Linked DNA regions of Homo sapiens. The protein of the gene in region 1 purifies or fractionates together with the protein of each later gene. This does not show direct contact. Each region holds a gene or a part of one and is shown on either strand. Other genes may lie near its edges. The genes, in order: EFNA2, ADGRG1, RPP30, SLC38A10, TMEM132A, POGLUT2 and XRCC1.

Region 1 (4,203 bases):
ATCGCCTGGGCACAGGTGCCAGGCCAATGGGCGGAAGGGGCGGCCGGCGACGCTGCGGCACTGCCCGGGCCTGCAGGCCCCATCGAGCACACGGTCCCCTGGTGCCCACGCTGCTGTCTGCCCCCCATCGCGGCTGTCCCCGTCTCCAGTGCCTTTCTGTATGCCCCTCTCAAAGACTTGGGGTCCCCGCATCCCCCACACACCTGCCCGACCCCATCATCCCTCCCCGGCCAGCCCAGCCTCACACCTTAGGCCTGCCGGCTGACGCCACTCCTCTCCCCAAGCCGATGTCCCCTCCACAGGGTCCCCTTGGATACGGAGGCCCAGCACCACCCCCTGCTGTGCCTGACACCCCCGCCACTCAGGCACAGGTCCCGGGCAGGTGCCCCTGGACACCAAATCTGAGAACTGCAGAGACCCCTGATGTCCGCGACAAAGCCCTGATTCTGGCTGGATCCCGGCTTCCCGGGAAGGTGCTCACCCAGCCCTGGGCCCCACTGCAGGGTGTCGGCTCCGTCCCCAGCAACCCTGGATACCGCAGGCAGGAGAGGAAGGAGGAGGCAGCCTCGGTGCTGCCCAGGTCGGCTCTGCGGACCAGCAAGGCCGTTCCCTCAGGCAGCGGTTTGAGCTGGGCAACCAGGTCAGACCCGGAGCAACAGGAGGTGGCTGGGCCAAGCCAGGCACTGGGGAGGCCACTTCCTTCCCCTGGCCGGGGGTCCGGCCCGCAGCCCACAGCCCTGTGGCAGGTGGGGCAGCAGGACGGCCCTGGTGACCACCTTCCTCCCCCGGTTGCCGGGTCCTCGTGTGTTTGGCGTTTGCTAGAACAAAGGACAGGCCACGCTGGGGACGGGAGATTCCGCAGCTGAAACCAAAAACTTGGGCCGGGGAAGCGCTGCCCGCTGGACTCCCCGCACGGCCAGCGACAGCCTTAATCAAACCCACATGTGACCAGCACAGCGGGCGGCTCGGGGACCCGCTCTGAGGTGGGCCAGCCGTCCCCCAGCGGCCCGGGGTCCCTGCCCTCAGCCCCCAGGGCCCGACCCGAGGCCGTTGACCAGGGTGGGGGGTGGGCCTGTGCGTGTTCCCCACCCCCACGGCGGAACACGGGCCGCCCTTGTCCCCGAGCCCGCCTCAAAGAGACCCCTTCATGCAACTTTCCTCCCGGGGACCGAGGACAGCAGGAGACAGAGGGGACAAGGAGGGGTGGCGGGCTCCAGAGGGCGGCTCGGTCGGCACAGGAAGCGGCTGGAAAACGGAGAGAAAGTGACCAGTAGCAGAAGAGTGGGGGGGGGCCGCCTCAGCCCCCGATGTGCAGCTCCGTGTGCCTTAGGAAGACGGTGACACCCTGAGTGCTGGGGCTGACTCCCTCCCGAGCCCCAGGACCCCCAAAGCCCCGGCTCCCACGGGACCCCCAGGGAAGCTGCAGCCTGCTCCTGTCTTGGAGACCCTGGGATGGTTCAGAGGGTTCTACCCACGTCCAGGCCATGGCCAGGCCCCGGCAAACTTTTTTTGCTCTGACCAACGGGGGCTTCTCCTGTCCCCCACGTTGTGCCTGGCCCGGACCTGGTTCAAAACAAGGGGGCCTGCAGCAGGCGGGTGCGGCATCTCGGCCGGGCGTGGCAGGCAGGGCACTGGGCCACCTGGGTCCTGCCCCCAAGTCCCCCCCTTGCATGACCTTGAGCCAGCTCCTCATCCCCTCTGCACCTCAGTTTCCTGGTCAGCGCCCAGAGGACAAGAGAGGACTCCATCCCACTGCCCCTCCCGGGGCTGACCCCCAGCTCCCCGGCCCCTCAGTCTCCTTTCAAAGCTGGGCCCTTGGCCCCCTGGAGTGAAGCAGATGCTGGGTCCTGAGGGAGGGACACTCCAACTTCCCCAAGTTCATCTGGGGACCTGCGGGCAGGACGAACCCAGAGATCCCTCGAGGGCCACAGTCCCCCACCTCCGGTGCCAAGGTCCCCGGGGATCCCCACCAAATGCGAAACCGAGGGGGCTCCCCAGAGAAGCGGGTGGATCAGGGGTCCCCCCAAGTCCAGGCAGGCAACTCAGGGGCTACCCGGCATCGGAGGGTACCAGAGGGGTTCCCCAAACTCCAGGAGACGTCGGCGCTCTGGGGGATGTGGGGCGCGAGTCCCCACAGTCCGTAGGGCAATGGGGCGCCCCGGGGAAGGCAGGCGCGAAAAGGGCGAGTCCCCCAAACTCCGGGGGGCCGGAGCTCCCTGGGGGGCTCCCGCGGGAACCGGGCGCCCGCATCCCGGCGGCGGCGCGCGCGTGGGGGGCGCCCGGAGCTCCGGGGGCGCGAGGCCGGGCGCGGCTTGGGGGGCGTTGGGGGGTCCCCGGGCGCCCCCCGCGCGCGGCCGCGCTCACCTGGGGTTGCTGCGGTTCCAGTAGACGGCGTAGCGGTCCGAGTTGGCGCGGGCGGCGTCCTCGGCGCGCGCGAAGGGCGGCGGCGGCAGCGGTAACAGCAGGAGCAGCAGCGGGAGCAGCGGGCGCTGCGCGGGCGCCATGGCCCCGGTCCGGCCGCCGCGCTCGCTCTCCCGGCCGCCGCCTGCCAGCCTTCTCCGCCTCCTCCGCCGCCGCCGCCGCCGCCGAGCGGGCGGGCGGAGGGCGGGCGGGAGGAGGGCGCGGCGGCGCTTGGAGATCCCGGGCCGCCCCCGCCTCCGCGCGCGCGACCTCGGGCGCCGAGAAGTCAGGCGGCGGCGGGGCGGGGCGCCGGGGTCGCCCCGGGCGCAGGACCCGGCCGCGCGGACTGTCGGAGCGCGGGCCGCCGCCGCCGCACCCGCCGGGGAGGGGCCCGGGCTCCGGCCTTTGTCCCGCCCGAGCGTCGGGAGGGCCGCGGGCGCCCCCTCCCGCCGTGCCCCGGCCGCGCGGGGACTGGGCGGGGGTCTCCAGCCTGCGCCCGCCCCCTGCCCCGGCCCACCCCGTCTCAGGCTCGTCCCCCGGGGCCTGCCCCCAGCGACCCCGATTCTGCGCGCCCCCCGCCGGCATCCGCGTGGCCCGGCCTGGGGTCTCCGAGGGGCGGGGGCGCACCCTGCCTCCCGCGCCCCCACGCGCTCCACCCGGCCCGGCCCTGGGTCCCGGGCCTCTCACCTGCCCGGTTCCAGCGCTATCCGCAGCCTCACCAACCCCGACGCACGCGTCCCAAATCGGGCTCGGCCAACTCCAGTCTCCCTGCGGGGGCCGGGGCAGAGTTTCAGAGGGGCGCTGGCCAAAGTCCAAAGCTGCTCGGGCTGCGACCTCCCTGGGGCCCTCCTGGGAGTCGCCTCTCCGGACCCACGCTGTTCCCTGGGGATGGAGTAAGTCCCTACACCTCAGCCCTAAGGGTGCCGGGAGCATAGTAGGTGGACCGATGTGGAGTGTGAGCAGCTGGGGATGGGATCCAAGAAGCCCAGAGTGAAGCCCCGGCCGACAGCAAATCAGTCTCCACGCACGAATCCTGCAGGCAGGGGAGGGCCGCTGCCCGGGGGCACAGCTTGTGCAAAGACCCGGGGTCTGATCTGTTCAGGGAACGCCGAGTGATTTCTCCTCCTGGTAGGCTGACACAGGTGGGGAACTGGGGGCCTGGCCTCTGCTTTGTCTTTTTTCCAATCTATAGAGACAGTGTCTGGCCATGTTGGCCACGCTGGTCTTGAACTCCTGGGCTCAGGCGATCTTCCCACCTGGGCTTCCCAAAGTGCTAGGATTACAGGCGTGAGCCACTGCACCTGGCCTGCCCTCTGTTTTTGCCCTTATTCATGCCACAGCCTCCCTCACCAGACTCTGAGCTTGTGGAGGGTAGGCTGTCATCAAACGCTGGCTGGACTTTGCTGGCGATGCCCAGATCGTGTTGTACGTCTCTGAATTAGTGTCATTCACCAGGCCCAGTGCAGGAGAGGGAACTGCAGGGCAAGCACCAACAGCCCTTGGACCCGAAGGTCCCTGTGTGAGGCATTACCCAAACTCCTGGCAGGGACCGTGAACCCAGAGATGGGCAAGCTAACCTGTGCCCCAGCAAGGTGGGGTGGGGACCGGACCCACCACCGTCCCACAGCTCTGAGACGTGGTGGGCTCTGTCCTGTGTCTCCTGCGTGCCCTCCTCCCCCGATTCCCCAGCGGGCCACGCGGGCCACACCACCTGACCTTTGTTCAGGCTGGGTCCTGCTGGGAAGTCCTTCCACTTTTTCTTCCTGTTAAAATCTTGCTCTTCCAGAAAGGTCTGTCCCACCC
Region 2 (3,500 bases), on another chromosome or scaffold:
TGGCTTGACTGTGTTCTAGACTTCCTCTGCCTGGCCTGTAAAGTTGGAGGGGTGGGGGGCTGTCACAGAAACCACTCTCCTTTCTTGTCCCTACAGAAGAATGTGACTCTGCAATGTGTGTTCTGGGTTGAAGACCCCACATGTGAGTATGCAGGGGTCTCTGGGCTGGACAAGTATCTGGAAGAGAAATAGAGTCCTGGGGGGTGGGGGAGGTGGGGTTAATCACCGAGGGCTTCCTGGAGAAAGGAGGACTTTGAAGAGAGAGCGATGGCAGGCTATGAGTAGGCCGGGTGGAAGAATGACACAGTCGTGCTTTTGGGGGTGGACACAGTGGGGTCCTGGAGGACTGGACTTGATTGGAGCCCCGTGCTGTCCCCTCCTCAGTGAGCAGCCCGGGGCATTGGAGCAGTGCTGGGTGTGAGACCGTCAGGAGAGAAACCCAAACATCCTGCTTCTGCAACCACTTGACCTACTTTGCAGTGCTGATGGTGAGGGTCCCTGCTCCCACCTCGCAGCCACACCCCAGGCCGTGTGCTTGTTCTGTGCAAGCACTTTTCATATATTCAGTCATTTATTCCTCATAACAGCTCTCCAAGGTAGCTTCTATTGTTGTCCCATTTTATAGATGAGGAAATGGAGGCTCAGAGAGGTTAAGCAATTTACCCGTGGCCACACAGCTAGTCAGTGAAAGAGCTGGTTTGTAGAGCCCCTGCTCTTTATTCCCAAATTTTGGTGTGTACGAAAATGCAGATTCCTGGCCCTCACCTAGGGTTCTGATTTGGCAGTGATGGGGCCAAGAGTGTTTCTAATGAGGCCCCTGAGGTGGCCTCCAGTGCCCCCAAGACCTCAGAATTCATGCTCCCAGGACTGTAGGATTCTGCCTGTGGGTATCCACCTGGGGCTTGAACACCCCTGGGTGTGGGAATCTCATTCCCTCACAGGAAACCTATTCCCATGTTAAATGTTATAGAAGAATAATCAATGCCAGGACAGAATAGGGGTTCTCTCATGAAGGGTTCTTGGCCTCTGTGGGTCAGGAAGCCGCTTGAGAATGTGGTCAAATCTAAAGATGCCCCCACTCCAGAAAAATGCACTTATGGGACCACATTCTGCTCAGTTGGGAGAGGGGGTTCTTAGGCTTCCGAGGCCCACCAGGGACCCCAGGTTAGCCCCTCACGCAGGGCAAGCCTCCAGGTTGTGTGGGGGACACAGAGGCCAGCTCTCTCCTGTCTCCTGGGGCCAGGTCTCCTCGGTGGAGGTGGACGCCGTGCACAAGCACTACCTGAGCCTCCTCTCCTACGTGGGCTGTGTCGTCTCTGCCCTGGCCTGCCTTGTCACCATTGCCGCCTACCTCTGCTCCAGGTGAGGCCTGAAAGGGGTGGGACAGGGGAGGGGACCCTCCATTGCACACACCTCCACCAGGGCGCCGCACACATCTCCGGTCATGGCCCGCCCGCATGACCTGGAACTGTGTGTGTGGTTAGGGGAGCTGTTTGGGGTAAGCTGACCCTTGGGGGCCACGTCTCCTCCTCAGATCAGTGGTGTTTGGATAACATAGTATTTACAAATTTTAGCTGTCGACATTGTATTTATTTATTTTTATTTTTATTTTATTATTATTATTTTTTTGAGACAGAGCCTTGCCTCTGTCGCCCAGGCTGGAGTGTAGTAGCATGATCTCGGCTCACTGCAACCTCTGCCTCCCGGGTTCAAGTGATTCTTGTGCCTCAGCCTCCTGAGTAGTTGGGACTACTGGCGCCTGCCACCACACCTGGCTAATCTGTATATTTTTAGTAGAGACGGGGTTTCACCATGTTGCTCAGGCTGGTCTCGAACTCCTGACCTCAAGTGATCCACCCACCTCAGCCCCCCGAAGCGCTGGGATTACAGGCATGAGTCACTGTGCCAGGCTAATTGTCAACATTTAAAATTGAGAGAGTCCACCTAAGAATCTGTTTCTTTCCTAGAGTAAGACAGGAAAGCAAAATAAAAAACTTAAAAAAGGAAAGATTTTTCATTTCTGCCTTTGAATAAGCAGATTTGTGAGAGCACTGGGTGGACACAATAATATCACAGCGGTAATGATCATACTTAACGTGTGTCAAACTTCCCGTGTGCCATGCACTGTTCTAAGTGTTTTACATGTGTGAACTCAATTCATCCTCACAACAGCCCTATGAAGGAACACTCAGAGAGGGTAAGTGACTTGCTTGAGGTCACACAGCAAGGAAGTGGCAGAGGTCAGATTGTCAGTGCTTGGCTTGGCCTAAATTGGGGTCCACTTGCCCTCAGCGCTGAACCCATTTGGGTAGAGGAGAGGCACCCTCGGTTCTCACTGTCCCCAGCCACGAGGAAGGAGAGGAAAGTGAAGCTGTATTTATGCGTGTGCACAAGCACGTGTGTGCCTATATGACTGTCCTGTGTGTGCACAGCTGTGTACCTGGGGAGCTAAGTAGGTGATGGTGATGAGGAAGGACAGCTGGGTGATGAGATGGGCTCGGCGGAAGGCTGGGGGTGGAGGCAGAAGTCCTCAACACCCAGTTGCTCACAAACATGCCCAAGGACACAGCACAGGAACCCTTAGGAACTGAGCACCTTATCTGTGTCAGATGCTTTGTGTCAGTGTAACTCTCACCCCAACCCTATGAGGGTACCATCCTCCCACTTCACAGATAGGCAAACTGAGAGTCTCAAGGGGAGGGGACCAGCTGAAGATGGTGCCATGAGTTAGGGGCAGGGCAGGGTGGGACTCCAGGATGGTGACACTGGGGCCTGCATGTTCTGCTGCACCCTCTAGGGCCATGTAGAATCCTGGAGTGGGGGTGGGGTGGGGTGTGCACACATTGACTTGCAAACCTCAGACAGACCGATGCGGGCAGCCCACACTCAGACTCACAGGTGCACAGTTGTGCAGACAGACGGGAAGACACAGAATGTGGATGGCATGGATTCTCCAACATGGTGAAAATGCCAAAGTGTTTCCGCTCTGACTTTGAGAGTATCTGGTTTATTACTGTGGTTGTCTTCCTCGCTCTGCCTGGCTGAGGCTTCTGTTAAACGTGCACGTGGTGCCTGAGTCTGTGGGTGCTGGGCACACAGTAGGTGCACAGGGGGATGTGGGGAACAGTTTGGCTGCAGCCACAGGAATAGGATAGGGGCCATGTATGACTGCATGTGTGTGTCGGGGTGGGGGGCAGTCTGGGAAGGCTTCCTGGAGGAGATGTGGGCACACTCCCCTCTCTACCTTCCCACACTGGCCCACCAGGGTGCCCCTGCCGTGCAGGAGGAAACCTCGGGACTACACCATCAAGGTGCACATGAACCTGCTGCTGGCCGTCTTCCTGCTGGACACGAGCTTCCTGCTCAGCGAGCCGGTGGCCCTGACAGGCTCTGAGGCTGGCTGCCGAGCCAGTGCCATCTTCCTGCACTTCTCCCTGCTCACCTGCCTTTCCTGGATGGGCCTCGAGGGGTACAACCTCTACCGACTCGTGGTGGAGGTC
Region 3 (3,500 bases), on another chromosome or scaffold:
CAGAGTATCCGGAAGATGTCTCATAGAAACTCCCTCTCCATAGCTACTTAAGGAGATAAGGCAGAGATTAAAGATTTTGAGGGGGTCCATTGGTTAGGGCTCCTTGGGATGGGGGACAGCTGTGGAATATGACACAGAGAGAGAGTTGCATAGAAGCTTCTGGAGCTTCTGGACCAATTAATTATTCCCATTTAGGATTTAAAGCAGCTGAGCAGGTTGAGGAGAATTCAGGTTATTTAGTCCAGTGGTCTCTAACCTGCTTTGATTGTGCACCCTATCAGTTTAAAAAATTTTTGAGCCTGCTTCCAAATATATATATGTTTCTTATAAATTATTCGCATCTCTCATTATACCAGTGTGCCTTATAAAAACTACATACACACAAAACAGATCTTAAGATAGTGAATTAAAAATTAAATGGGCCAGGCATGGTGGCTCACGCCTGTAATCCTAGCACTTTGGGAGGCCGAGGCAGGCAGATCACGAGAGGCCATCCTGGCTAACACGGTGAAACCCCGACTCCACTAAAAATTCAAAAAATTAGCCAGGCATGGTGGCGGGCACCTGTAGTCCCAGCTACTCAGGAGGCTGAGGCAGGAGAATGGTGTGAACCCGGGAGACGGAGCTTGCAGTGAGCCAAGATTGCACCACAGCACTGCAACCTGGATGACAGAGCAAGACTCCGTCTCAAAGAAAAAAGTAAATGGAGGCTGGATCCAGTGCCTTGTGCCTGTAATTCCAGGACTTTGGGAGGCCGAGGCAGGATGACCACTTGAGGCCAGGAGTTCAAGACCAGCCTGGGCAACATAGTGAGACCCTGTCTCTATTTTTAAAAAATAAAAGTAAATGGAAATAAAAGTTTTATTTTCTTCCTGCTCCTGAAATTCATGCCTTTCCTTTGCAGAGGACTGTTGTAGTGTCTTGAGGAAGGGAGTGTCCTGGTGTTACTTGCAGTATGGTCTGGCTCCACTGGCTTTAGAATTACCTGGGATATTTATTAAAATGCAGATCATTAGGCCATACTTAATGAATCAATGGAGGTAGGGCCTGGTTGTCTCCATTTTTGATACATTCTTTAGGGGAGTTTTGTACACATTAAAGTTGAGTGCCACTGTTGATGGGCATCTCTCTTTTTCCTTGGTAAGCCTGATTGTCTCTTCACAATTTATCAAACTGATACCTTTGAAAGGGATTCAGGGAGGAATATGAACCCCTACAGTCCTATTCCTTTTGTGCCATAGAGGCAAAGATGTGTATATATGTGTGCATTTTTATGGGAATACGTTTTCTTTAAATTGTCATAGGAGTCTCTGGCCAAAAAAAAAAAAAAAAATTGGTATGGACAACTGATGTGAATTATTATGTAACCTACTAGTTTTCAGAGAAAACCATTATAAGATTCTTAACCCCAAGGCTCTATTGGGCATAATTTAATCTTCTAAAATGATATAGAAAGCGTTTCATTGTAGTGTGAACATTAACTTTTATTTTGTGGTTATCTAAAAGTATTGATTGAACATTTTGGTTAATAGAAAACTAAATAACAAAATAATTCAGTTTGGGGCATTCTAAGGTTGAAGTGTCAGAGGGAGCCATGTGGAGCTGTCCCTTGTAACTAAAAGTTTATTATAATGCATGTATTTGCACGTACTTAAACCAACATAGAGCCATTGTTTAATTGGCCACTCTTATGTAGGAAAAGGGAAGAAAGGAACAATGTGTAAGTAAAAAGTAACCTAATTTAGCTTTATTCTGGGGAGAATGTTTAACAGGCTTTTAAAGAATTAATCACCTTTTTAAACTGAAGAAATAATTTACATTCACAATGATTAATTTAAACAGTACAAAGGTACTGAAAAGTATGCCTTACTTCCACCTAAAATTCCTTCCCCATTTTTTCCAGAAGCAACCACTAGTAATAGTTTTTGTGTATCTTTTTAGAAATATTATTTACCTCGTCTTTTTTTCCTTTGTTCTCCCCTTTCTCCCTTCCTCTTTCCTTCCTACCTAACACCATGCTTCTTTTACCTTACAGTTTCTTAGAGGTTGTTCCATAATATCCATTAGAGATGTACATCATTTCCTTTAATGAGTTGGCATATTCCATCATATAAAGGGATCATAATTGAAGTAAAATTGAGGGATGTTTAATTGTGTCTAGTCTTTCATGATTGGTATTGCAATGACTGTCATTGTACTAATGTCCCCTGAGCCTTTGTAGGGTATATAGCTACGTAATATATTTTTAGAGTCTCTGCACTTATAGAGACTTCTCTATAGGAGACTCCACTTATACCTACTACATACCTATAAGTAGAATTGTTGGTGTGTGCATTTAAAATTTTGGTAGCCATTGCTAAAATGCTTTTCAAGACCTTATACTGATTTAAAGACCTTTTGAGTGCCTGTTCATTCATTCTCATGTCAGCAAGGTAGTACCAAACTTTTTTATCTTTGCCAGTATGATCGATAAAAAATGGTGAACAGAGCTGAATTTGTTTCAGCTATCATTCAGAGCTTTTCTTCATCCACTCTTATTAAATTTTCAGTGACTCTTTTATGAGTTGGACAGCTGTGGCAGTTGGGATGGGGCAGATTCTTTATGAGCCAAGTATTTCTGCCAAAACAACATTGCTTCCCAGGCTTACTAAGTTACTATGACTGTCTTAAAGCTAGCCAGCCTCTGATCTCTACTTCCTAAAGCCCTGGGGTTGGAGTAGGAGTGACTGAAGTGGGGATTCTGAAGAAAAAGGGCAAGATACGGTATTCCTGTCATTGCCGAAGGTTGGCACCAATCCTATAGGTCATTTTCTCCACTCTTCCTTACTCTGCCCTTTCCCCTGGTACATGCCACTGATGTTGTTTGTCAGCGTAGCCATCCTGGAAGTTTGAATTTGTCTGTCAAGCCTGTACACACTAGCATTGTCAGTAAGCTTTGTTTTTAATGTAATACATAACAGCCAAATATTTTTATCACTATAAATCAAATAATGGCAAAATCAGAGCCAGGTATGTTTCTTCCAGCAGTGTCTTCTGGCTTGCCCTCTACACTAGTAACCTTTTCCCAGCTTTATTTTTCTTCCCTGATTTTCCATTTATCCTGATTTTCTTATCTGTTTATTTTATCTTGTATGTGGTTTTCATAAACAGTTTCAAATCTCTTTGAGAAGAAAATGCAGAGTATTACTCAACAAGTCATAGCAAAAATTAAAACAACAGAAAGGGAAATTAAAAGTTGAGAAAATGCATTCATTATCATTTGCTTTGTAGTAGCTCTGCTTTAACTATTTATGTAGATTCCTTCTATTAGTATTTGAACAAATGTCATGAGGTGCTGTGTTCATATTTCTTTAGCTACTCAGTAGACTTGATAGGAGCCACAGCCCTGGGACAATTCTTGGCACAGAGTTGCTCAATAAATAGTGTGTGGGATAAATGGACTATGCATACATTCCATTTGGCTTATTTTTTCCTTGGGTTTTAGAATAGTCAGTTTCTTC
Region 4 (3,500 bases), on another chromosome or scaffold:
GCTATTGTTGTTTGTTTGTTTGTTTGTTTTTTGAGACGGAGTCTCACTTTGTCGCCCAGGCTGGAGTGCAGTGGCGCAATCTCGGCTCACTGCAACCTCCATCTCCTGGGTTCAAGTGATTCTCCTGCCTCAGCCTCCCAAGTAGCGGGGATTACAGGTGCCCGCCACCACACCTGGCTAATTTTTTTTATTTTTAGTAGAGAAGGGGTTTCACCATCTTGGCCAGGCTGGTCTCGAACTCCTGACCTTGTTACCCACCCGCCTCAGCCTCCCAAAGTGCTGGGGTTACAGGCATGAGCCACCACGCCCGGCCGCTATTATTTTTCTAAATGAGAATTTATAATAGGATGGACTAGGGGCCAGCTGTGGAGTTGGCACTGAGAACACGGATACCACCCAGAGCCCCCAGCACACCCTCCATTCTCTGCCAGGCCCCTGCCCATAGGAGCCCCAGGACCCGAGCCCCTGGGACCTTCCTGTTCCCTGGCAAGGTCAGAAATGACCCTTCCTGAGTGGCTGGAACCTGGGTGTCTCACAGCGGGTTTGCACCAGGACGAGGCCAGGTGGTCATTGAAGCCAGGGTCTCCAGTGCTCCTCAGCTCTCCGAGTGAGGGCCAGCCCAGTGGCAGCTACCTCTTTACTCTTGAGACAGCCGCGTCCTGGTGGGCCAGTCTTTTGGAAAATGTCCATGTCTAACACAGTACAAGATGGGGAGGGACCTGCCCACGTGGGAAACCAGCCTCTGTAACCGACGGAAACTGGGGCCATGCATGCTCAGTGGTCTCCTCCCGTCTGCGCCAAGCAGCCCCCTTGCAAGAGCAGCTGCTCTGGTGCCCGCGGGATGAACCAGGGTGCTCTGAGGCAGGGGTTGGGAATCCAGAAAGGCGCGGGGTCTCCCTGCCTCCAGCTGGCGGCACAAGGCGGCACAGGGCGGCACAGGGTGGTGGGGGGCTGGGATGTGGGTGGGAAGAGCTGCACTCTCCTGCCACTCCTTCCTAGCGGCGCGTGGGCCGGGATGCTGAGTCCCGCCTGCGTCCTGACCTGCCCCGTGCTCTCTCCCCTCTCCCTCTGCAGATCGTGCTCTCCTCTCTCAAGCACGGCCTCTTCAGTGGGCAGTGGCTGCGGCGGGTCAGCTACGTCCGCTGGGAGGGCGTCTTCCGCTGCATCCCCATCTTCGGCATGTCCTTCGCCTGCCAGTCGTAAGTGTCCTGCTGTGGTCTGTGGTGGAGTTCTGTGACGGGGAGGGCGAGCTGCTGGGAGACGGGACCCTCTCTTTCTCGTTTACTGTGATCGCTCTTTGCTGGCTGCTAAAGAGTGATGTCTTGTTCAGTGATGACCTTTCCCGCCCCAGGTTGAGGGAGATAGTTATATTTTAATCGGGAGGTAAATCGGCTTCATTCCTGGGACATGTTTGGGACTAGCTGGTGAGAGTCCCTGGTTTGCCAGATCCCCACAAGCAGAGCATTGGCTGTGGGGGATGCAGCAGCAACCCAGCCATCTGACTGCACAGAGTCGAGCGCTTCGCCAGAATTTAGCTGTTCTGAGAATATTTAAAAGGAAATGGCACAAACATTGACTTCAGACGGCTGCTGGATGCATTTGGAGGCCTGCATGTGCGCGCGAGCCTGCTTTCTCTCTGGCACGCAGGGCTCTGTAAATGTGGATCGGGCTCTTCCATAATTCCAGCAGCATTACCTTCTCCACCAAAATGACAAGAGCGAGTGATTCGTGCCCGGTTGGAACATGGTAACCGGCTGAAAAGAGAGGCGTAAATCCGGCGCAGACGGGAAAAGACCATCGGCATGCGGGGGGCTGGCAGAGCGGCCCCTGTAGCGTTAGTGGGCATGCATTGAGCCAATCGTAAACTAATGTGACAGATGAAATTTGTTCATACCGCTGTGTTTACACCCACATGCGAGATCCAAATCGTCATTTCCCACTTAGCGTCTCTCTTGGCAGCTCCATCTCCACCAGAACGCGCCCCAGTCTTGCTGTTTAATATCCCATTATGATCGGTGACAGAAGCCGCATTCTTCCGCCACGTACCTAGTTACCAGTTGCCCTTTGTGTCTGCGTGTTTGCATATTTAGAAATAAATCTGCAGCTGGGGCTTTTTGGTGGTGGCCACGTAGCAGCCGGTGCACCTCGTTCGGGTCTGGTTCCGGAGTCAGGTGCTGGGTTGAAGCGCTGGAGCGTGCGGCTCAACAAGTGCAGCTTTCCTTCTGTCCCGCCCTGAGGATGTGCAGGCCCACGGATTCACCTGACATTCTCCCCAGCAGGGACATCCCTCCTTGTGCTGGCCGCTGCGCTGACCTCCCCACCCCTGTGCCGGCCGCCGTGCTGACCTCCCCACCTCTGAACCCAGGAATGTTTTCTGAGAGCAGAGACATCTCTTCCCTCCCACAGCGTCACTGCACCAGAGTGCCTGTCCCTGTTGGGTGGCGGGCCGCGCCCCCTGCCTGTGTGATTGGCCTGGATGCCAGCTGGGGCCAGGTCTCCCTTGTGCCTTCACTATCTGGCCGTTTTTGGTAAATGCATACCTGGTTATGCAGAATGGTTGTCCTAGGCCCAGAGAAGCAGCCGGGCAGCACTGAGCCCAGGAGGCCCTGGAGGTCAGGGTCTATCTGGAGACCAGGGTCCCCATCCTCACAGTAGGGCAGAGGGGCACACACCCAAGAGCTGCATGTGGATGGCTCCATTTGACTCTGGTAGGCCCTGAGGCTCAGAGGCTGCCTTGCAAGGTGGGCGGGCCAGGGATGCTCCGTCTGGGGCCATGGGCCAGCGCTCAGCATGTCCCCCATCTGTGGAGCTCCTTTGCAGGTGGCCAGGAGGTTTTGTGGCTCCTACCTTGTTTCTTTCCAGGGATGATCCCGGGGGTCCCTGGGGTAGGTGGTCAGGATTGGAGAGGAGCCTGGGGCTTGGCCTTCCACCCTGGCCACCCCGTGTGCGTGGGACACCCCTTCCCACAGTGTCCGTGGCTTCCTTGGGGGTCACTCCCCACAGGGTGTATTGGGGGCTGGGGGTAAGCACGTGTCATGGGGCACCAACGCTGGTCCCCTCAAGCCAAGACTCCCTGGTGTGGACTCAGCTGTGGCGAGAGGACAGTTTAGCACTGGGAAGTTCATGCCGCAACATGGCCTTCTTCTGTAGCTGTGGGTCTAGGGCCGTGGAGACCTCTTGGGTGTTTCTCCTGATTCTCTGCCAGCCTCCTGGGGCTGTGTGCACAGGCGTTGGCCACTTAGCTCCCTTCTAGCCTGGGCCGAGGGGAAGGCTCATGTCCTGCGGGGTCCCCTGACTGCTGCTGATGGCACTCCATGCTGAGGGCGGCCTGATGGGATGGTGTGCTAGGACCTGGGCAACGGGACACCAGCAGCTGCTGGCAGGACCTTCTCACTTGTCAGTCTGCTGGGTTTTCTTTTTTTTGGAGATGGGGTCCTGCTGTGTCACCCAAGCTGGAGTGCAGTGATGCGATCACAGCTCACTGTAGCCTCGACCTCCCG
Region 5 (3,500 bases), on another chromosome or scaffold:
AGGGCCTGAGGTCTGCTGGGTACAAATTGGGAGCCTTCCCCAGCCCCGGCTGTGCTCCCCATATTCCAGAGGGGGAAACTGAGGCCCATAAAGGTTCTCTTCTGCCAAGCTGGGATCCCATCTTCCTAGATCTTCCCCTCCCAAGCTCCTCTTTTGTTAAGCCCTCTCATTCTCCCTCCAGGTGGTCCCCCCTCGAGTCACTGAGCCCCACCAACGGCCAGTCCCATGGGACGTGCGGGCCGTTTCAGTGGAAGCGGCTGTGACTCCAGCAGAGCCCTACGCCCGGGTTCTCTTCCACCTCAAAGGGCAGGATTGGCCACCAGGGTCTGGCAGCCTGCCCTGTGCCCGGCTCCATGCCACACACCCTGCCGGCACTGCTCACCAAGCCTGCCGCTTCCAGGTGAGTAGACAGGCCCCACCTAGGCTGGTCCTGCTGCAGCTGCATCAGCCAGGTGGTGGGCCCGCGGCAGAGAGGAAACCCCCACTCCTGGGAAGCGCGGGGGTTGTGGACCACCCGACTCCATTTCTGCCCCCACTAGCTTTCAGTGCTGTGAAAAGGTTATTTAGGGCCCCAGAGGGAGTTCAGTCCTTGGTGTGTGACTTTGAGTAAGTAACTTAATCTCTCTGAGATTCAGTTTCCTCATCTGAAGAATGGGGTGTTAAGAATTCCTACCCCATCTGGAGTTGGAGTAAGGAACAAGTGAGATGAATGTAAGGATAGCTTACGGCAGAGTAATCAATCAGCCAGTGTGTTTGCATTATTAGTAGTGTTACTTTTATAATTGCTATTTCCACTATTTTGGAGTCTAGCACAGGAATCCATGGGAGAGGCGTCTCTTGAGCTTTAGGATTCTGAGAAGAAGACTGGATTCTAGGCAGGATAGTCCTGGGCTTGGTTAGGGTAAGGCCCTGGGATTGGCTTACTTTGTAATGAGACCTATCCCAAGGGCTGAAGAGTGGTCTGCGGACATGCTCTGAAACCTAGACCTGGTTTGAAGCCCCAGCCAGGTTGCTGGTTTGCTGTGTCACTCAGGCTGTGTCTCCGGCCCATGCTGGGCCTCCCTTTCATGAGCCCCTCCAGCTCTGGGTTTCCTGCCATGGGTGCTGAGAATCCTGTTCCTCGCCCTGCACCCACCCCCATGCCAATTACTGCTGTCGTGTCTTCACAGCCATCCCTGGGCGCCTGCGTGGTGGAGCTGGAGCTTCCCTCGCACTGGTTCTCACAGGCCTCCACCACACGGGCCGAGCTGGCCTACACGCTTGAGCCTGCAGCTGAGGGCCCTGGGGGCTGTGGCTCCGGCGAGGAGAACGACCCTGGGGAGCAGGCCCTCCCAGTGGGGGGTGTGGAGCTGCGCCCAGCAGACCCCCCGCAGTACCAGGAGGTACCTCTGGACGAGGCTGTGACTCTGCGGGTGCCTGACATGCCAGTGCGGCCCGGCCAGCTCTTTAGTGCTACCCTCCTGCTTCGGCACAACTTCACAGCCAGCCTCCTGACCCTGCGGTGAGCACCAGGCCACGGGGATGGGTGAGGGTGGGAACCTCTGTGGGAAGACTAGGGACAGGTACCTGCTCCTCCTGGGGTCCTTGCTGGAATCCTTGACCTCTGCAAAACATGTGTCCACCAAACTAAACTCCTTCCAGGTAAAAAGCCATGACTGTGCTGGTAGGAGCCCACCATGGGCACAGCCCTGGAATTAGAGTCAGAAGTAGGAAGCTGCCCCTTCCCCTGGCACCTCCCTGAGATTCCTTTGTCCAATGGGGCTAACGGTCCACCTTCAGGGCAGCTGCAAGTCTCCAGGGAGGGGAACCCGCAAAGGGCTTAGAGACTGCAGTACCTAAGTGTGAGCTCTTGCTCCAGTGCTCCAGAGAGGGATATTTGCCCCAATCACGTTCACCTACATGCTGTCCCTCCTTGCCACCCTCGCCGTAGGAGTCTAGCCTTTGGACAGAGCTTGCTCTTCCCCATAGGAAGGCCCTGATTCTTTGTGTCCTTTTCCGTAATAAGTTCCCCCAAAGCAGCCCCCACCCACCTACCCAGTTCACCCGGCAAGGGCTTGCAGAGTATGACTTGCTTCTGGAGTCCAGCGCAGGAATCCATGGGAGAGGCATCTCTTAGGCTTTAAGATTCTGAGAAGCCTGAGTTCTAGGCAGGATAGTCCTGGGCTTGGTTAGGGTGAGGCACTGGGACTTGCTCACTTTGTAATGATATCTTTCCTGAGGATCGAAGAGCGGTCTGTGGACATGCTTTGAAACCTAGACCTAGTTTCAAGCCCTGCCTGGGTTTGTGCATGTCCCGTCTCTGTGTCTCCCCATCTCCTACGCCCTCCTATGCTCACTCTTATTAAGCAGATCTTTCCTAGACACTTACAGCCTGCCAAGCCCTGTGTCTTCACTCTGCAGATCCAAACACGAGCAAGGGCCAGTCCCTATCTGGCAGAAAGGGGCCCCAGTGGTAGGGAAGGGAGCTGGATGGGCATGAATTGGATTAGAAGGCATGTGGGTGTGTAAGCACTGAGGGAGGTTCAAAGTGCGGTGGGAGCTCAGGTGAGTGGGTGCAGTAAGGGGGAAATTCATCCCACCACTGGAAAAGCTTTCTAAAGGAAATGGTCTGTGAGTTGTTGGAGGCTTAAAGCATCAGCAGGTAAAGTAAGAAAGGGCAGAGCAGGCTGAAGGCACAGACTGGGCAAAGGCTTGGAGTCACGAATGGGTGCCGTGTGTGTGGGAAACTTGTGTGTAGCTGAAGCAGAGAGTGCATGGAGAGATGTCACAACCGAAGTTAAGGCTGGACCAGACCCTGGAGGGCCCCCAAATGCCCGGCTAAGCTTTGACCTTATGGGCAGTGGGGAGGCGTAAGTGGTCTTTGGGTGGGGGAGAGCTGTAAGGTGTGAGCTGCACTGAGGCGGGGTCCTTCTGGGTTGGAGGATGGTGAAGAGGAGATTCAGACTGGAGCCAGGGAGGTCAGATGGCTTTGGCTCCTTGTCTTTCCCCTTCAATCCAGCCCACAGTTCAGCATGCACCTTGCCAAACTGAGCCTATACTCTCTTCCCCAGGATCAAGGTGAAGAAGGGGCTGCATGTGACAGCCGCCCGCCCAGCCCAGCCCACACTCTGGACTGCCAAGCTGGACCGCTTCAAGGGCTCCAGGCACCACACCACCCTCATCACCTGCCACCGTGCTGGGCTCACAGAGCCAGATTCCAGGTGGGCAGTTTCCCTCCACCCAGGGGGCAAAGGAGGGAGGGCTGGTTATAGAGTGCAGTTGAGCAGATTTGGAGGCTGCCATGCTGCCTCTAGATCCCCAGGTGAGCAGACCCAAGGACAGATTTTTTCAAGGAAGCAGCACAAAGCAGGCATAATCCATTCCTTCATTCATTCATTCGGCCACTATCTTCCCAGCCCCAGCCATGTGCCAGGCATAGCAAGTGTCTGTGAGTCTTATTCTAAGAGATGCCAACCAATCCTGTGCCCCAGGTAGAGCCCTCATAGCCACTACTCCATCCC
Region 6 (3,500 bases), on another chromosome or scaffold:
ATTACCTAGAGCCATCTCCTTCCCTCTTACAGGCGACAGTACCACAAGACAGTAGGGAAGCAGTGTATATACAAAGGCAGAAATCTTGTCCCCCCCTTAACAACCCCAAGAAAAGTAAACTTTTTTTTTTTTATTTTTGTGAACTCTGCAGAGAAGTAAGAAAAGGTAAACACTTTTCAAGAGTGTCTAGGTTCCTTTCCTACATTCTGCCAGTACAGCCTGGTACAGTATCACCCACTAAACCTTAAAAAGATATTCCATTGTCAGCCACTGCCTGGGTTAGGTGGGATCTGAGAATTATAAAAAGGAATAACAGTAAAAACCTCAGTGCAGACTGTAATTAATTTGTTATAAAATTAGTGAAGTGGACTGTTTTGAGAATTACTTTTGCTTCTTTTTGTTGCCGTTGTTGTTGAGACAGGGTCTCGCTCTGTTGCCCAGGCTGGAGTGCAGTGGTGCAATCACTGCTTACTGCAGCCTCGACCTCCTGGGTTCAAGCAATCCTCCCACCTCAGCTGCATGAGTAGCTGGGACTACAGGCACTCACCACCATGCCCCACTAATTTTTGTATTTTTTGTAGAAACAGGGTTTTGCCATGTTGCTCAGACTGGTCCCGAACCCTGGAGCTCAAGTGATCTGCCCACCTCAGTCTCCCAAAGTGCTAGGATTACAGGCGTGAGCCACTGTACCCAGCTACTTTTGCTTTTTTTTTTTTTTTTTTTTTTGAGACGATGTCTCGCTCTGTCACTAGCCTAGAGTGCAGTGGTGCAATCTCGGCTCACTGCAAGCTCTGCCTCCCGGGTTCAAGCGATTCTGCTGCCTCAGCCACCCAAATAGCTGAGACTACAGGGACGCGCCACAACACCTGGCTAATTTTTGTATTTTTAGTAGAGACGGGGTTTCACCATGTTGACCAGGATGGTCTCGATCTCCTGACCTCGTGATCCGCCCGCCTCAGCCTCCCAAAGTGCTGGGATTACAGGCATGAGCCAAGAACCCAGCCTACTTTTCCTCCTTAATAATTCTTAAAAAAAAAAAAAAAAAGAATAGCAGTTCCTTGTTTATTTTTGCTGTTATTGATGATTTACTTATTGAGAAAAGTACCTTAGACACTTTAAGAACCTGTTTGTATAACAGACCATCAAAATAGTAAATCATATCACTTTTGTCTTTCATTAAAATAGGTATGCTCCTCTGATACCCTTTTACCAGTATTTGGTTATTCTTCAGTCTGCAAAACATAAGGAATAATGAGCTGTAATATTACCATAGACATAAACCAAGTATCTGTTGTCTTTCTTTTATTTTTTGAAACAAGAGTCTCACTCTGTCCCCCAAGCTGGAGCACAGTGGCACAATCTCCGCTCACTGCAACCTTCACCTCCCAGATTCAAGCTATTGTCATGCCTCAGCCTCCTGAGTAGCTGAGATTTCAGGCACACACCACCATACCCAGCTAAACTTTTTTGTATTTTTAGTAGAGATGGGGTTTCAACATGTTGGCCAGGCTGGTCTCAAACTCCTGACCTCAAGTTATCCACCCACCTCAGCCTCCCAAAGTGCTGGTATTACAGACGTGAGCCACTGCACCCAGCCTCTATTTCCTTTCTTTTGAACTCATGCAAAGTAGACCTTATTATTATGAAAATATCACAAAACTTCACTGTGAAGAGCTGTCAGAGTAGAAGGCTGACTTACTTGCAATGCCCCAGTATAGTAAAAATGTATTACTTTTTTTTTCTTTGAAACGGGCTCTCACTGTCTTGCCCAGGATGGAGTGGCGCAAACATGGCTCACTGCAGCTTCAACCTCCTGGGCTCAAGTGATCCTCCCACGTCAGCCTCCCAAGTAGCTGAAACCACAGGTGCATGCCAACGCACCCAGCTAATTTTTTATTTTTTGTAGAGACATGGTCTCCCTGTGTTGCCCAGGCTGCTCCCGAACTCCTGGGCTCAGGCTGTCTTCCTGCCTCAGCCTCCCAAAGTGCTGGGATTACCGACATGAGCCAACCTTGCTGGCCTGTAATTCTCTTAAAATGTGTTTTCAATGAAAATGCTCTTCCTATGTAACTAAGCAAAATTCATGAAGCCACATTATAGATGTTTATTACAAGTTTCGAATGCTGAGTGAAATGATCACTGTTGTACTTTGTTATTCTTATGTAAATAGGGCCGGTTTACCATGAGAACTGTGACTGTCCTCTGCAAGATAGTGCAGCCTGGCTACGGGAGATGAACTGCCCTGAAACCATTGCTCAGATTCAGAGAGATCTGGCACATTTCCCTGCTGTGGATCCAGAAAAGATTGCAGTAGAAATCCCAAAAAGATTTGGACAGAGGCAGAGCCTATGTCACTACACCTTAAAGGATAACAAGGTACAACACATGATTTTTTGCTTGTTTGTTTTAGTGATTTTTTTTCTTGTTTTGAACATTTGGCTACAATTAGCTAAATCATTTTATAAACATCATTCGAATGAGCACTGTGACAAGCTTTTCCTCAGTGAAGTCTGCCAGCGTCTTTAGACTAACATAATAAATGGTAAATTCTCTTTTAGGTTTATATCAAGACTCATGGTGAACATGTAGGTTTTAGAATTTTCATGGATGCCATACTACTTTCTTTGACTAGAAAGGTAAGTATATATTTTCTCTTAGCTGTAATAGATAATTTAAGCCCAGATTTTACAGGATAATTTTTCAAAATACAAATTATACACTATCAGGGTATTCTCTTCTGGAGCCTTATGATAATACTATTCTGAAGCTTTCTGTTATTTCAGGTACCTGCGTTTGTTTCCTAGGGCTGCCGTAACAAAGTGCTACAAACTGGAAGCCTTAAAATAACAGAAATGTATTCTCTGGCAGTTATGGAGGCCAGATGTCCAAAATCAAAGTGTCAGCTAGGTGCCATGGCTCACGCCTGTAATCCTAGCACTTTAGGAGGTCAAAGCGGGTGGATCACTTGAGCCCAGGAGCTTGAGACCAGGCTGGGCAACATGGTGAAGACCTGTCTCTACAAAAAATACAAAAATTAGCCTGTAGTAGTTTCAGCTAATGGGGAGCTGAGGCAGGAAGATCGCTTGAACCTAGGAGGTCGAGGCTGCATGAGCCGAGATCACGCCACTGCACTCCCAAGGCCTGGGTGACAAGAGTGAGATCCTGTCCCCCCCCAAAAAAAATTAAAGTGTCAGGAGGCCAGCTCCCTCTGAGATGATCCTTTCCTTTCCTTTCCTGCCTCTTCCTGGCTGCTGTCAGTGGCCCTCCATCTTTGGTGTTCCTTGGTTTGCAGCTGCATCCTCCCATCTCTGCCTCTGTCATCACGTGGGCTTCTCCCCTCATGTCTCTGGGTCTCTTCTTATAAGGACACAGCATAGTGGATTAATGGCCCAGCCTACTCCAGTATGACCTCATGCTAACTAATATCTGCAACAACCCTATTTCCAAATAAGGTCATTCTGAGACACTGGGATTTAAGACTTCAGCATATCTTTTGCAGG
Region 7 (3,500 bases), about 42 Mb from region 1:
CCCAGCACAGGATAAGGAGCAGGGTTGGCGTGTGAGGCCTTACCTCTGGGAGGGCAGCCGCCGACGCATGCGGTGACAGTCCAGCACCCACTCCTTACGCACGATGCGGCCTCCCAGGCCTAGGACCTGGCTGTACTTGGGGGTGTTGGCAAAGGCACAGCTGGTGGGGGGCAGAAGTGAAGATGCCAGTTAGGTGTGATCTGAGGGGCAAAGGGGAACGAGACAGGGGAGACAGACAGAGAGAGAGAGAGACAGACAGACAGACAGATCATGAGATTGAGGTGGGAGAAACAAAAAGAGGTTGGAGACCAAGGGAGAGATGCAAAAATCAGAGAGAAGACAAAGGCTACAGAATGCAGTGAGAAAGAAAGCAAGTGAGAGAGAGAGAAAGCATGCAGCATAGTGGACACAGAGAAAGCACAAGGTGGAGGAGACACAGGGAGCTGGGGGAGAAACTGCAGCGGCGCAGGGAGGGGGGCGCAAGCCTACATGAGGTGCGTGCTGTCCCGGGTCCAGTCTGGCCGATACTTGGCCCCAAGCTCTAGGGCCTTATCTCGCAGCTCGGAGCGGAAGGGGTTCTGGAAGCCACTCAGCACCACTACCACACCCTGAAGGATCTTCCCCAGCTCCTCTGGGCCAGCTCGGGGTCGTCTGGGCTCGGTGCCTTCTCCTCGGGGTTTGCCTGTCACTGCCCCCTGTGCTCGGGCAGGGACTGGGGCTGTGGCTGGGGTACGAGTTGGAGCTGGCACTGGAGAAGACAAAGAGTAGATTAGGTTAGCACCACTGGGGGTCAACCCCCAGCCCCTCCTCCCTCAGACCCAGCAGTCCAGGCCCCAGACCCTCCTCCCTCAGACCCAGCAATCCAGGCCCCAGCCCCTCCCCCCTCAGACCCAGGGGTCCAGGCCCCCAGCCCCTCCTCCCTCAGACCCAGGAGTCCAGGCCCCCAGCCCCTCCTCCCTCAGGCCCAGGAGTCCAGGCCCCCAGCCCCTCCTCCCTCAGACCCAGGGATCCAGGCCCCCAACCCCTCCTCTCTCAGACCCAGGGGTCCAGGCTCCCAGCCCCTCCTCCCTCAGACCCAGGGGTTTAGGCCCTCAGCCCCTCCTCCCTCGGATTCAGGAATCCAGGCCCCCAGCCCCTCCTCCCTCAGACCCAGGGGTCCAGGCCCCCAGCCCTTCCTCCCTCAGATTCAGGACAGCAGGCTCCAGCCCCGCTTCCCCTAGGACACAGGAGCACAGGCCCCTGTGGAAACAAGGGATCTAGTTAGCTCACATTTAGGTCTCTTGGGAACAGATGGCGACAGCTGGGCTGGTGGTTTGCTGGGGGTCTTCTTTTCTTCTTGGTTCAAATCCAACTTCCTCTTCCCTTTGGGAGACTCCTGGGGCTGAGGGGATGGGGATGGATTGAGGCCTCCAGCTTCTCTCCTCCTCCACCCCACCAAAGTCTGATGATTTCACCTTGGAGGTGCTGCCTATGGCCCTGGAGACTGGAGAGGCTGAGGAGGCAGCACTAGAAGCCTGGAGGGTAGCAGCTGCATAGCTAGGTCCTGCTGGGTCGCTGGCTGTGACTATGAAGGGAGAAAGTGGATCCAGGATGAGAGGGCTGAGCCCCAAGACCCTTTCACTCCTATCTATGGGACACAGAATATTGTTGCCAAAACCCACCAGTGATCCAGGAGTCCCAGCCTCCAGACCTCTCAACCCTCAGGACACAAGAGGCCAGGCCCACCTTCCTCCACCCTGAGACCCAGGAGTCCAGGACTCCACTACCCTCCTCCCTCAGACCCAGGAATCTGAGCCCCAGCCCCCTCTACCCTCAGACCCACGAGTCTAGGTCTCAACCCTACTCACTCAGGACCCACGTTGTCCGAGCTCACCTGGGGATGTCTTGTTGATCCGGCTGAAGAAGAGAGCCCCCGGCCTCAGAGAGTTGGCGCTCTCATCCTCCTCCTTCACACGGAACTGGCCAAGCTTGGTCACTGTCACCTTCTAAGGTCCCGCAAGGTCAGTATTATAGGTGGGCTGCTGGCAGGTGGGGGTGGAGAGGCAGGGAGAAGGCCATGGGGAGTGACAGGTACAGCTTACCTGGGACGGGGCCTCTGCCTCATCTTTGTCTGGGGGGCTATGAAACCGTACAAAACTCAAGCCAAAGGGGGAGTCCTGGGAAAGGAGGGGTGGGAGTCAGGGAGTCTGGCCCAAGGACAGAGGCCAGGGCCCAAGACCCTTTTCACTCAGGGAAACCTCTTCCTGGCTCCTTCCCTCTCATGAACACCCATGTTGAAGGAGGGGCCCTGGCGATGGTGATGACAATTATAGGATTAAGCTGTTATGACTGAGCCCTAACTCTGAGTCTGGCTCCAAGCCCTTTTCACGCATTAGCTCTTTGGGCAATTGGCAGAGTCTACTAGGTGTCCCAGCGAATTCACTGCCCTATGCACAAACTCCTGCCTGTGGAATGGGAGGGAGTGCTGCGTGCCACTTCCAGAACACAGAAGTGTTCCAGGCTCTCTCCTCTGCCAGCTGGATGCAGAGCCAGAAAATAGGAGAAGTCTGGGTCCCTGCACGACCTCATAAGGAGAAGCCAGCTGACAGGCTAAACACTCCCCAGGACAGTTACCTGGGCAAGAAGCACACCTTTAGTGTGTGGCATCATCACATACTCCAGTCTCACTGTTACCACAGCTTTTAGCATCCCTTAACCTACAGCAACCCTGTAAGGATCAGGCAATGGAGGCCCAGAGAGCGTAAGTCACTTGCCCAAGATCACACAGCTAAAAAGTGGTATAGCCAGGACGTGAACTCAGTAATCAGACGCCAGATCTCCTGATGTTAACTACTAGGCCCACTCTACTAGGCCACCTCTCTAACAAGTCAGTTCCCCTCCTCCGATTCCCCTCTGAGATGCTGCAGTTCACCCTTCCTAGATTCCTCCGGGAGATGAAACTTCTCATTACAGGAAAGATCCCAAACCCATTTCAGGGAACGCAGGGACCCAGCCTCCCCATAATCCCATGGGACACCAGCTGTCTACTCCTCCCAGCCCTATGGGACTCAATATTGGCCCTTATTTCCCTCCTTGCCCAGGACCAAGGACTCTGCACCCTGGCTCCCACCCTAGGTACCTTGCTGTAGGGCTGGCTGCAAACAATTTTGACCCGGTCCCAGCGCTTCTCGGCGGCTGCCCGGACCAGCTTGTCAGGCCCAAACATGCGAACGCGGTTGGGGTTTGAGCCACTGCGGCTCTCGGAAGGGGACATGAAAGATGAGGTGACCAGAAGGACCTGGGTGGGAGAAGCCACAGTGCATGAGAACCAGGGCAGGTTGGCTTAGATGAGAGCTTCTAGGGGCTGGGGAAGAGGGCACAGGGCCCACACAGGGGACTGGGAGTCACTAGAATGTAGCTTGGGCCTAGATGTCTCCAGACCCTTTGTTTCTAGGCCTTGAGTCAGTCCTGCCCTGACACAGGCCCCAGAGGGATCTCTTTATCCTCCAGATGTGAGCGAC

The links.
Region 2: the proteins of EFNA2 (region 1) and ADGRG1 purify together in Homo sapiens (affinity purification with mass spectrometry; one large-scale study listed by BioGRID and IntAct). This does not show direct contact.
Region 3: the proteins of EFNA2 (region 1) and RPP30 purify together in Homo sapiens (affinity purification with mass spectrometry; one large-scale study listed by BioGRID and IntAct). This does not show direct contact.
Region 4: the proteins of EFNA2 (region 1) and SLC38A10 purify together in Homo sapiens (affinity purification with mass spectrometry; one large-scale study listed by BioGRID and IntAct). This does not show direct contact.
Region 5: the proteins of EFNA2 (region 1) and TMEM132A purify together in Homo sapiens (affinity purification with mass spectrometry; one large-scale study listed by BioGRID and IntAct). This does not show direct contact.
Region 6: the proteins of EFNA2 (region 1) and POGLUT2 purify together in Homo sapiens (affinity purification with mass spectrometry; one large-scale study listed by BioGRID and IntAct). This does not show direct contact.
Region 7: the proteins of EFNA2 (region 1) and XRCC1 purify together in Homo sapiens (affinity purification with mass spectrometry; one large-scale study listed by BioGRID and IntAct). This does not show direct contact.

The regions. Positions count from the first base shown.
Region 1 is NC_000019.10:1,284,470-1,288,672, reverse strand, and holds the start of EFNA2 (ephrin-A2 precursor), read right to left. Parts: upstream 2,801-4,203; 5' UTR 2,505-2,800; coding exon 2,365-2,504; intron 1-2,364. UniProt on the Homo sapiens protein: Cell surface GPI-bound ligand for Eph receptors, a family of receptor tyrosine kinases which are crucial for migration, repulsion and adhesion during neuronal, vascular and epithelial development.
Region 2 is NC_000016.10:57,656,130-57,659,629, forward strand, and holds part of ADGRG1 (adhesion G-protein coupled receptor G1 isoform b precursor), read left to right. Parts: intron 1-96; coding exon 97-142; intron 143-384; coding exon 385-488; intron 489-1,243; coding exon 1,244-1,362; intron 1,363-3,265; coding exon of another isoform or gene 3,266-3,283; coding exon 3,284-3,500. UniProt on the Homo sapiens protein: Adhesion G-protein coupled receptor (aGPCR) for steroid hormone 17alpha-hydroxypregnenolone (17-OH), which is involved in cell adhesion and cell-cell interactions.
Region 3 is NC_000010.11:90,881,974-90,885,473, forward strand, and holds part of RPP30 (ribonuclease P protein subunit p30), read left to right. Parts: intron 1-3,500. UniProt on the Homo sapiens protein: Component of ribonuclease P, a ribonucleoprotein complex that generates mature tRNA molecules by cleaving their 5'-ends. Also a component of the MRP ribonuclease complex, which cleaves pre-rRNA sequences.
Region 4 is NC_000017.11:81,278,308-81,281,807, reverse strand, and holds part of SLC38A10 (solute carrier family 38 member 10), read left to right. Parts: intron 1-1,074; coding exon 1,075-1,199; intron 1,200-3,500. UniProt on the Homo sapiens protein: Facilitates bidirectional transport of amino acids. May act as a glutamate sensor that regulates glutamate-glutamine cycle and mTOR signaling in the brain. The transport mechanism remains to be elucidated.
Region 5 is NC_000011.10:60,927,460-60,930,959, forward strand, and holds part of TMEM132A (transmembrane protein 132A isoform b precursor), read left to right. Parts: intron 1-181; coding exon 182-400; intron 401-1,169; coding exon 1,170-1,501; intron 1,502-3,050; coding exon 3,051-3,200; intron 3,201-3,500. UniProt on the Homo sapiens protein: May play a role in embryonic and postnatal development of the brain. Increased resistance to cell death induced by serum starvation in cultured cells. Regulates cAMP-induced GFAP gene expression via STAT3 phosphorylation.
Region 6 is NC_000013.11:102,792,477-102,795,976, reverse strand, and holds part of POGLUT2 (protein O-glucosyltransferase 2 isoform 1 precursor), read left to right. Parts: intron 1-2,170; coding exon 2,171-2,376; intron 2,377-2,556; exon of another isoform or gene 2,557-2,558; coding exon 2,559-2,636; intron 2,637-3,500. UniProt on the Homo sapiens protein: Protein glucosyltransferase that catalyzes the transfer of glucose from UDP-glucose to a serine residue within the consensus sequence peptide C-X-N-T-X-G-S-F-X-C. Can also catalyze the transfer of xylose from UDP-xylose but less efficiently.
Region 7 is NC_000019.10:43,551,528-43,555,027, forward strand, and holds part of XRCC1 (DNA repair protein XRCC1), read right to left. Parts: intron 3,278-3,500; coding exon 3,119-3,277; intron 2,157-3,118; coding exon 2,082-2,156; intron 1,986-2,081; coding exon 1,874-1,985; intron 1,565-1,873; coding exon 1,455-1,564; intron 1,382-1,454; coding exon 1,270-1,381; intron 749-1,269; coding exon 490-748; intron 161-489; coding exon 44-160; intron 1-43. UniProt on the Homo sapiens protein: Scaffold protein involved in DNA single-strand break repair by mediating the assembly of DNA break repair protein complexes. Negatively regulates ADP-ribosyltransferase activity of PARP1 during base-excision repair in order to prevent excessive PARP1 activity.